Linked DNA regions of Homo sapiens: region 2 is linked to region 1. The links come from fine-mapping of genetic effects on gene expression. A gene starts in region 1. The other region holds a variant in brackets. All regions are shown on one strand. Distances are between the middles of the regions.

Region 1 (5,365 bases):
TCATTTTGTAAAAATCTATGCATCTGAATATATGTACTTGCCTGTACATATATTAGACTTTATTTAAGTACCTACACACTTTTTTTTTCACTCTCAGGATATGCTGAAACATTTTTTTTTAATGGCAGAAATATTTAGATTAAAAAGTAGAATGTTCTGCCCTGGTATCGTGACTCTGACATTCCACGTGTCTTTCTCTTTACACTGGCCTGAATTCTTTTATTCACTACCTCCCTCCCCAGGTCTCTGTCCATCCCCTCTCATCTCCAACCCTCCCACCCACCCCGCCACCGCCCTCCGCTCCATCCAGGACAGAGAAAGCTCAGTCCTGGATGACCCAGCTCGATGACAGATTGTGAGGTGGGGAGTTTTCCCTTCCAGAGTAGGGCTGTATAATGTGTTTGTTACCTCGGGTCAAAGAGAACAAAAACAGTCTGCAGAGAGCATAATGCACAAACTCATCATAAGAGCAAGAAAGCCCCGGGCGAGCTGGCCAGAGAATAGATGAAGTGGCAAGCAACACTCGCAATTCACCTGCCTCCCTCTCCCACGATTCCCCCTTCCGAGGGGCCACTGCAATCCCCCTCTCCCCCAACAGCCCTCCAATCTGCAGGATTCAGGCTGGACAGAGGTAAGCTAAGGACACAGCAGAAGGGCTCCCCACCTCCTTCCTTTCCTCTTAGAAGTCTCCAAATCCAGGCTCCAGAAGGCGATCTAAAGCCATTTTCAATGAGGAAACCTGTCAGCCGAGCAAAGCCCTCTCACTCCTGGAGCTAACTGGGTGTGCACCCATGAATACCCTGTCCTCCTGCAAGGCACTCCCACTCCTCACTCTGTTGATAGGCAGAGTAATCAAGCCACCCCTGAGCACTTCAATGGGCCTGGGATGGTGAGGAATTGCTAACCTTAAGAACCAGCCTCTTTAAGAGTCTGAAACTTAGGAAGCAAAGACCTGGCACCTGCTTTGGGCACCAACGGAGATGGCATCGTAGTTAGAGGTATGCTCCCCTCAAAAGCACCTCTGCTGAACTTCTTAATTTTCCCCACCCTCAAAGTAGACCACTCACACACTCCAAAACCTCAGTGCCCTCTGTTGCAATCCCAGCACCCAGGATCCAAGCGCCAGGCTCGATTTTGAACCCCCCTGAAGTGAGTCCCTCTACCACCCGCCATGCTCCTCAAACAGCAACCCCCGGAGACCACACAGGGCCCAGCCCCGTTTAGTCTATAACTGCAAAACCACATACAAAAGGGATAGGGGACTCATCGCTGAGCCCCAGGGACCCATCCAGCCCGTTCATTTTTACACAGAGGGCAGCTGGTTGGAACTGTGCGGAGAAGCGGCACATCTGGGCATGGCACAGTGGCCAGCCAGCCTGGGCAGCAGGGTGTGTCCCCCCTCCTGGAATCTGGGTCATGCTTAGATAACTGCTAGAAAGCCCGACTAATTACCCACCCTTGCCTGCCTACATCTCGATAGATGTTAAGCCCTCCTCAAGGTTTATTTCAAGCAGGCAGGGATTTAAAGAAACACAGAAGATCTGCATTTTGATAGCATCTCCACAGAAGAAAATGTGGGCTTCACCTTTTTCCTCTGGATCTTTGATTAAAAAAAAAAAAATTTAAAAGGCATTTACCTACCTAAGATGTCCACATGGGTGCTGATTCTCCTGGTGTTCCCTCTCGGCTACTCGGGGTAGGAAAAGCTGGACATGGTGCTCTAAAATGGACCCACCACCTCATTTGCTGTTGCCCTGTCTTTCTTACTGAAAGTGTCCAGATCAGGTCTTCCCAGGCCAGGGGCCCAGATAAAGCAAGTGGGATCTCTTTCTCGACACCCCCAAAGATGATGAGGTTCCCCAATCAGCGGTTAAAGGCAATGGGACCTGCACACATGAGGGAAACATAAGCGCCCCCCAGCCCATCACTATCCTCTCCAGATAGGAACAGCGGCCCACCCTGGGGTACTCACTTCGGCCAGTGCTGGCTTCTCAGTGTGAAGGCCACATGGACTCCCTCTTGCTCTTAGCCCTGGGAGCCCCCAAGCGCCCTGCCCTAAAAGTGCGGCGGCCCCCCACCTTGGGGAAAGCAGTAGTGGAGAGGCTGTCCAGCTTCCCCTGCGTGGACTCCAGTGAGCGACGGCCAAGAAAACCCAACCAAGGCCCCCATAGTTCCCCTGCCCTGGCCAGAAGCGCCCAGGCCCGAGCCCGCTCCAAGCTCACTCCGTAGAACTCCAAACCCTCCGGACTTGGCTCGAAAGCCCCCACCAAGGCTCCTGCACGACCCCAGGCCCCAGATCTCATTCTAGAGTCGGTCCTTGGGAAGGATCCACTCTCCGCTGCCCACCCCCCAGCCCCCCACAAACCCATTCCCAAGCCTCCAGGGTAGCTCAACCCAGCTCGGGGTGGAGAGATTCTTTCACACTCCTCCCGGTGCCCCCTCTCCCAGCCCCTGGAAGACCCCCCTCCTCCCCACCTCCCATCAACCCCCGGGTCTCTCTCCCAGCCTGGAAGAGGGGAGGCGGAGGGAGGAGGGGGAGGCGCAGCTGCTGCTGGGGTTCGGGCAAAAGGATATGGCCATTCGGTGATCTTTTTGGCGTATTTTCTCACCACGTTGTCTTCGCTGAAGAGGAAGAGAGACCGGTTAACCGTGAGGCAGTTCTGTCGGACGGGGATGGGGTTGTAGAGTGCCATGGTCCGCGCTCTCTGCGCCATTGACTGCTTGTACATCCTTTGCGCCCCGGGCTGCCCGCCCTGCCGGCTGCCCCCGGCTCCTCGCCCGCCTCCGCTGCCCACGACCACCCCGGCGGCTGCCCCGGAGCCTCCTCCCCCGTAGCGGGCCGGCATCTCGTCTCCGAAGCGGGCCATTCTGCAAAGAGCAAAGGGCTCCGGGTTACGCTGCGGCGAACGATGCGGAAGACGCCGCCGCCGCCGCCGCCGCCGCTGATGCTGAGGCTGCCGGGGCTGGGAGCGCGGCGGCTGGAGCTACGACTGCGGAGACGCTCCACGGCCCAGCCCATCGGGCGGCGGCGGCTCGGCGCCTCGGGTCGGGGGCTCAGAAGGCGGCTGCCCGGGCCGAGCCGGGGATAGCAGCTCGGGACATCTTCCTGGCTGACCCCGGAGAAGGAGGGGCGGGAGGAGGGTGCGGGGGCGGGGCGCGGGGGCCCGGGGAGGAGGGGGGAGGGGAGAGAGAAGCGAGGCAAAAAATAACCGAGGAAGGAATCCAGGCAATCCCCAGTCCACCCACTCCGGAAAAAAAAAAAAAGAGACAGTTAAAAAAAAAAAATCCACCCAACGCACACCCCCTTTAAGACGCGAACGGTTTGCAAAGGACGCCCCCCCCGGGACGCAGTGGAAGCTTCAAATTCCTCCGAGGTCCGGGTCAGGCTGGCATCTTGCAAAAGGAGTGCGCTCGGCCCATTAAAAAAAAATAAAAAATAAAAAATAAAAAAATATATATATATTTAAAAATAAAGAAAGACGAAACCCAGGTCTGGGTGGGGAGGGCAAAAAAAAAAAAAAAAAAAATTAAGTGCCCTTCTGTTTTGCTGGAGTTCCTAGACCTTAAAAATGCTGAAAGATCTGTAGCTCCAAAAATAAAATAAAATAAAAACAAAGAAGATGAAAGGGAAGGGAAAGAGGAGGGAAGGGGAGTAAGACGCTCCAGAGGGTTCCTAAGGAGTCTTCACACCGCAGGGTCCAGGTTTAAAAAAAAAAAAAAAAATTTTTTTTCTTCCTGAATCACCAACGGCTGCCTCTTCTGCTCCCGGAGGAAGTGTGAGTGTGTATGTGCGCACAGCGTTTCGCTCAATGGTGCCTCATCTTGGGGTTAAATTGCAGCAGTGAAATCCTGAAAATTCCCAACAGGGGGAAAAGAGAGAGAGAGAGAGGTATGCGCCCTCCGCTTAGCCACTCAATAGCTGCCCCTGGATGCGGCAATGCCTCTCCACCCTCCAAATCCCTCCACCTCCTCCTTCTCTAGGTTTTGCTAAAATAAGACTGGTGTGGAGGGTTGCGGGTAGAAGAAGGTAAAGAGGAAAAAAAAATGGGCGCAAAGGTCTGAACCACTGGCCAGCAAACGGAAAAGGGGAGCAATTGATGAGTTTAACAGTAGAAGGACCCACCCAGAGTGTCGACACATGAGGGCCCGCGACCAATCGTGGAGGCTCGTGGAGGCGCGGGGGTACCGGGCTCAGCGGAGTTTGTGGGGGAGAGAGGGGAGCGTCGCATGGTTGGGAGGCAGGGAGGGGGGAATTGGGGTGCTTCCTCCTCCCCTGGGAGGAAAGCCTGTTTTCCACCCCGTTCCATTTCGGTTGCAGACAGCCGGACGCTCCCCAGCATCTTGCAAGGAGAAGGCAGGATGGAGGCAGGAAAAAAACTTAAAAGACAGAAAAGAGAAGGGGATTTGTGTCTAGAGGTGCGATTCGTCAGTCTCTAAACAAATTTGCTCTGTTTAGCAAAAGACCATTTTTGAAAGTGGAGAGAGTGGTTTGGGGTTACTTCTGTGAACGTTTCAAATCACAAGGACTCCTGCAAGTTGGAATTAAAGGTTTATTCTACCTTGGAGACCCCAGAGGTGACAAGTCTGAACTCCCAGGAGGAAATAATTAACCAGGTCCTAGTTGGCTGGATAGGGGTTCTGGGTGGTATAGTTTGCTTGATACTCACGTCTCTCCAGAACCACTTTGATTACTTCCCATTCTGCTTTTTGTGTGGTGAAATTCAATAAGCACAAAGAAAAATGCATAAAACATAAAGGTACGGAGTTAAGAAATTGGTCTGAAATGAACACTCATGAAATCAAGTCTAGGGCTAGAAATGGAACATCACCACCTCTGCAGAACCCCCTTTGCCAACACGCTTACACAGCCCCTTATTCCAGCAATAATCGCTACCTGACTTTATGGTATTCATATCTTGCTTTTTTAAAAAAAGTTTGACTACCTTATTATGCGTTCCTAACCAATACAATTTTACTTTGCTTCTTTTGGGCTTTTATATAAATGGAATAATCATATAGTATATATTCTACAGTTTCTTGTTTCTTCGGTTCAACATTATGTCTTTAAGATTCATCTGGCAGGGCACGGTGTCTGCGCCTGTAATCCCAGCACTTTGGGAGGCAGAGCATGAGGATTGCTTGAGGCCAGGGGTTTGAGACAAGCCTGGGCAATATAGCAAGACCCTGTCTCTCCAAAAACCTTTTTTAAAATAAAAATTAACCAGGCATGGTGATGTGAACCTAGTCCCAGCTACTTAGGAGGCTGAGATGGGAAGATCCCTTGAGTCCAGGATGTTGCAGTGAGCCAAGATCAAACCACTGCCCTCCAGCCTGGGCAACAAAGTGAGACTCTGTCAAACAAAAC
Region 2 (5,365 bases), 300 kb before region 1:
CGCAATCTCAGCTCACTGCAACCTCTGCCTCCCAGGTTCAAGCGATTTTCCTGCCTCAGCCTGCCAAGTATCTGGGAATATAGGCATGCACCACCACACCTGGCTAATTTTTTTATTTTTAGTAGAGACAGGGTTTCACTATGTTGGCCAGGCTGGTCTCAAACTCCTGACTTGGTGATCTGCTCACCTTGGCCTCCCAAAGTGCTGGGATTACAGGCGTGAGCCTCTGTACCCAGCCTTAAAAAAAACAAACTTTTTTTTTTAGAGACAGCGTCTTGCTATGTTGCCCAGGCTGGTCTTGAACTACTGGCCTCAAGTGATTCTCCCAAAGTGTTGAGATTACAAGAGTCAGACACCGCACTCGACCTCAAAACTTTGACTTCTCGTTGGACTGATCTTTTCCTAGATGCCATTATTTTATTTATTTATTTTTACTTTTAATTTTTTTAGAGATGGGATCTTTCTACGTCACCCAGGCTGGAATGCAATGGTTATTCACAGGTGTGATCATAGCTGGTCTTGACCTCGTGGGCTCAAGTGATCCTCCTGCCTCAGCCTCCTGAACAGCTGGGACTACAGGTGTGTGCCACCACATTTGGCTTACCATTATTTTAGAAGGACTTACACCTGTCTTGCTATCTGGAGTCTGCAGATTTCTTACCCAAGGTAAGCTCAAGCAGGGCCTGTTGTCTGGAACAAGACCTGTTCAAAATGTTTGCCTTAATGCTACAGTAGTAATGGTGATAGTCAATAGTAGCTTGCTATGGGTCAGGTACTGTTGTGAGAACAGAAGCTCTCAAAGGGGTATTGGACTCTGGGGATGGCTGAAACACTTCGTGGGGGCGGGGGTTGGTGTCCACGAGACCAAATTATTATTATTAATTATCTAAGATGGAGTCTTGCTCTGTCACCCAGGTTGGAGTGCAGTGGCACGATCTTGGTTCACTGCAACCTCCGCCTCCTGGGTTCAAGCAATTCTCCTGCCTCAGCTTCCCGAGTAGCTGGGATTACAGGCACCCACCACCACGCGTGGCTAATTTTTGTATTTGTAGTAAAGACGGCGTTTCACTATGTTGGCCAGGCTGGTTGTGAACTCCTGACCTCATGTGATCCACCCACCTCGGCCTCCCAAAGTGCTGGGATTATAGGCGTGAGCCACCGCGCCCTGCCTTTTTTTTTTTTATTTTGAGACAAGAGTCTCATTCCGTCACTCAGGCTGGAGTGCAGTGGTGGGATCTTGGCTCACTGCTAACCTCCGCCTCTCAGGCTCAGGTGATTCTCATGCCTCAGCCTCCGGAGTAGCTGGGATTACAGTTTGTGCAACCACGCATGGCTAATTTTTTTTGTATTTTTAGTAGAGATGAGGTTTTGCCATGTTGGTCGGGCTGGTCTCGAACTCCTGACCTCAAGTGATCCATCTGCCTTAGCCTCCCAAAGTGCTGGGATTACAGGCGTGCATGATGCCCGGCCTCCTTGTCGCTTTCAAACAGTGCTTCTAGGAGCTAACAAAGAAGTGCCTCTTTGTATGATTCCCCAAGAGAGACCCACCCAGGCAGCACCTAGCCAAGGGACAAAGACCACTCCTATCCAAAAGCCCTTTGATTCAACTTTTTTTTATTTTTTTTTTCTTTTTGAATGTCATGCAATAATTCACAGTCCCAAGCCCACGGTTTTCAAACAAGGTAGGAAAAAAGGAAAAAAGAAGCAAAGGAATCGGTGGTGATGGTGGGTTTTTCTTCTTCTTTTGTTGTTTCAAGCAGGACCAAATGTCAGAAAAAAATGCCTCTTTTCTCAATCATTAATTTTTTTGTCCTTTTTAAAATTGTTTATTGTTATTATTATTTTTTTAAATTGATTTCTGCAGGCAGTAATAGTAGGGTTTGGTATAACCGGCAAGCACTCTTGTGTGTGTCTGAGAACGTGTGTGGGTGTGAGTGTGTCTGGTGGTGGGTGTAGGGCACTGGGATTCTGGTTCCTTCTGGCTTCTTTGCCGCACTCGGCCACCAGCTGTCTTCATCAGGGAAAGGAAAGATTCAATTGAGATGATAAAACTCATCAATAGAAGCTATTTTTTTCTCCCCGTTTTTTCTTTTAAAAATGTTTTTTTTTTTTTTTTTTTTTTTTTTTTTCATGTTCCCCAAAGTTCTCCAAAAATGGCTGAGTTAATTCAAATCCCTTGGCTGTGTGGTTTGTCTGCTCCCTGCCTCCCACCCGAGAGCCCCTGTCGTGGGTGGGGGGATCGGGGCTGGTTGGGGGGCGCCGTGGCTGCCCAGGAGGGTCTCTTTTGGCCGAGGGTCTCTGCGGGACACCCTTGTGGCCCA[G/T]CCCTGGCCTCTCCAGAGTCTGGGGTCTCCCGGCTGGCCCTCTCCCGGGCCCTCTGTGCTGGGCCCCCGCGGCCTCTGCGCGGCTCCTCGGGTGGGGTGTGTGCGTGGGGTGCGTGGGGGGCCGGGCGGGCGCCACCTCGCCCGGGCTTAGCACCAATCATCGTCACTCTCGCTGTAGGGTTCGTGCAGGCCCTTCCTGGAGCCCGGCCCGCGGGGCCTGGCCAGTCCGTGCGCCGGGTAGTAGCCGTTGGGGAGTCGCCGGCCGTGCCGAGAAGGCGAGGCGCAGGCCGGGCCCGAGGCCCGGGGAGTCCTGGGCGAGCGCCCGGTGGCGCCCGAGGACGCGTGTCGTACGGGGGGTGGCGCGTCGTAGGCCCCGGCCATGGCCTCCTCGCCGCCCCCGCTGCCCGGGCCATCGGCCTCGTCGTAGTCGGAGCCCCGGTAGTAGCCATGGTGCCGGGGACCCGGGGGCCCCTCGGACACGTGCGGGCCAGATGCCGGCCACCGGGCCCCGCCGTGTCGACAGGCCCTGGGGGACTCGCTCCGGGCCGGGCCTGGGACCCGCCTCTCCATCCTGGGCGAGCGGCCGCTGCTGTGGCCCCCCGTGGGCGGCCGATCTCCGGCCAGAGGCTCGGCCGTGGGGCCTGGGTACCTCCGAGGGCCGCTGGTGGCCGCCCGGCCCGGCCTGGCCACCGCCTGCTGCTGCTGCTGCTGCTGCTGCTGCTGCTGCTGCTGCGGGGGCCCCGAGCCGCCGGCCTTACGGATCACAGGGGAATAGGACACGTGTGGCCGGGGGGTGGAGGGGGTCTGGGGGAGCTGGCGGCGGCCCCGCCGCGGAGTGCTGGTACCAGATGTTGAGGGGGCTGGGCTTCCACTTACGGAACTACTGCCCTACACGAAAATTGAAACAAAGGAAATCAAAAAAAAAGATACAACAAAATCAAAGGAGACACGGGATTGGGAGGAAGAGAGGGGAGCGAAGGGAGAGGGGCCGGGAGGAGAGGGAGGAGGGGGAGGGGGAGGAGGAGGAGGAGGAGGAGAGGGGGGACACAGGACATTGAATGGAAAAAAGCAACAGCCACAGGGAGGAGGGAGGGGAGGAGGGGGAGTGAGACAGGGAGGGGAGGAGTCGAAAACCAACACAACAAAGTGAAAAGAGAAATGAGAAATGGAGTTTTGTAAGTTTCGGGGTTAAAAATAGCAGAAGTTTCAAAAATTACTCACAGGCGTCCAGAGGACAGAAATCATAATTGAAACAAAAACAGAAGCCGGGTTAAAGGAAAGTGAAAGGTCGGGCGGCACGGCCCAGAACTCAAATATGATCCACAACCGAGGAGCAAGCAGCTGCGGGCGGCGGGGAGGGGGCGGCGGGTGGGCAAGGGGGCTGGGGGGACAGCATAGGCAGCTGGTGTGGTGGGGATCCGTGTCCGCTCCGGCCGCCGGGCACCCCGGTGGCTTGGGGGCAGGATGGGAGGTGGTCACAGCCGGGATCCGGGGACCTTTGCCTAGAGTGGCTGTTGGATGGGGTATCCCCTTCTCTCCTCCCCGCCTCCCGGCCGAGCCCAGCCTGGGGTCACTTGCAGCCGCACCCACCTGCCGGTGCGCCATGTGCTCTCGGCCCTCGCTGGGCGAGCGGGACCAGCGCTGGTCCCGAGCCCGTGCCCGGCCGTGGTCCGGCCGTTCCTGGGCATAGCGGTCCTTGTCGGGGGGCGGGGGATGGTGGTGGTGGTGGTGGTGGTGGTGGTGCTGTCGATGCTTCCGATCCTTGGGCCGGCCCCGCTCCTGGTCCCGCTCCTTCGACGGCAGGTCCCCGGATTGGGTGGTCATGCTCAGGTCTGTCCCCAAGCCTGGGCCGGGTGAGGGTCAGACAGACACACAGGTGGTCGTGAGGGAGAGGTGGGGCAGATGCACACACAGGAGGCCACCTGGAAGGTGTGGGGGCCCTAGAGATCCCCTGAACCGAGGCAGGTCAGTGGGTTGGGGGGAGGGGGTAGTACCCAGGTTCCTGCAGCTGCTGCCTGGCCCCCTCTGTCCCCTCTCCATGGAGGCCTCTCCCTTTCTTCTTCCTTAGTGTCTCCTCCGCCCTGCCTTCTCCTCCCCTCTCCTCTCCTCTGTTCTGCTTGTCCCTGAGCACCACAGGGCTGCCCACCTGTGTCCACATCGGTGTAGCGGCCCAGGGAGCGCTCAGAGGCGCGGTGGCTGCGGTCGCGGCGCCGCTGGTGGTGCCGCTGGTTCTCCTCGGGCGGGACCCGCTCCAGCGAGTAATCGTCCAGGCGTCGGGCCTTGGGGCCCAGCACGGAGGCTGAACGCTTCATGGGGCTGGTGTCTGAGATGGTCTGGGGGAGGGGACAGGCCGGTGGGCTGGGGTCAGCAGCTAGCACCAAGTGGTCCCGGTCCTTCCTGCCCCATTGTGGCAGCCTGGTGGTGGCCTTCGGTGACTGCGGTGTGACCATCCTGGGGCAGGGGCCAGGGGATGCCATGGGGCCTTGGCTCCCCCTGATCAATCAGGGCTCTGGGTGTGGCCAGGCCTCTGAGGGTGGAGCCTGAGGATTCCTCTGTCCCTCAGAGACAGGACTGCTCCTTTTGAGCCCATCCTGGGTTCTGACCAGAAAGATCTGATCCTCACTCTCCAGTCCTGGGGGCCCAGCCACAGTTGGGCAGGCTCAGGCTGGCCAGAGGGAAGCCCTCTCCACATCCAGGGTGCAAACCTGGGAGCCCTGGACTGCCGCACTCATCCCTGCCCCAGCTTGCTCTCCTGGGAGGGTGAGAAGCCTCCGACTGTGGCTGGCTGACCTATGGGCTCAGGACCAGGTGCCCGGCATGGCAGCTTTGGGTCCTCCCGGCTAACGGGGCTGTGCTCGCTGCCCCCACAAGTCTGAGTCCTTCTGGTGAGGCCCAAGCTAGGGAGCTCTGGGTGGGGGTGGGGGATACCCAGGCACTGGAGGCTCTGGGGGCCCACTCTTTTCCCTGGTGCTTCATCCCTGGGTCAAGCCCTGACACACAGGTTTCTCTGCAGCAGGCAGAGGAGGGAAGGAGGGAGATGGGGC

The links.
Region 2: its variant is fine-mapped to the expression of CACNA1A in blood mononuclear cells (TOPMed, PIP above 0.99).

What each region holds. Positions count from the first base shown.
Region 1 is chr19:13,503,358-13,508,722 of GRCh38, forward strand. It overlaps CACNA1A (calcium voltage-gated channel subunit alpha1 A), which reads right to left and starts at 3,122. Exons shown (of 47, transcript NM_001127222.2): 1 at 2,575-3,122. The coding sequence starts at 2,867. RefSeq lists an enhancer at 4,164-4,690.
Region 2 is chr19:13,204,845-13,210,209 of GRCh38, forward strand. CACNA1A (calcium voltage-gated channel subunit alpha1 A) reads right to left here. Exons shown (of 47, transcript NM_001127222.2): 45 at 4,468-4,654; 46 at 3,912-4,165; 47 at 1,598-3,209. The coding sequence ends at 2,469. Among named protein-coding and RNA genes, the nearest start is that of IER2, 57 kb to the left of the region's middle. RefSeq lists enhancers at 3,396-3,665, 3,972-4,872 and silencers at 3,666-3,715, 3,796-3,985. The variant G/T (reference allele first, on the strand shown) is at 2,322.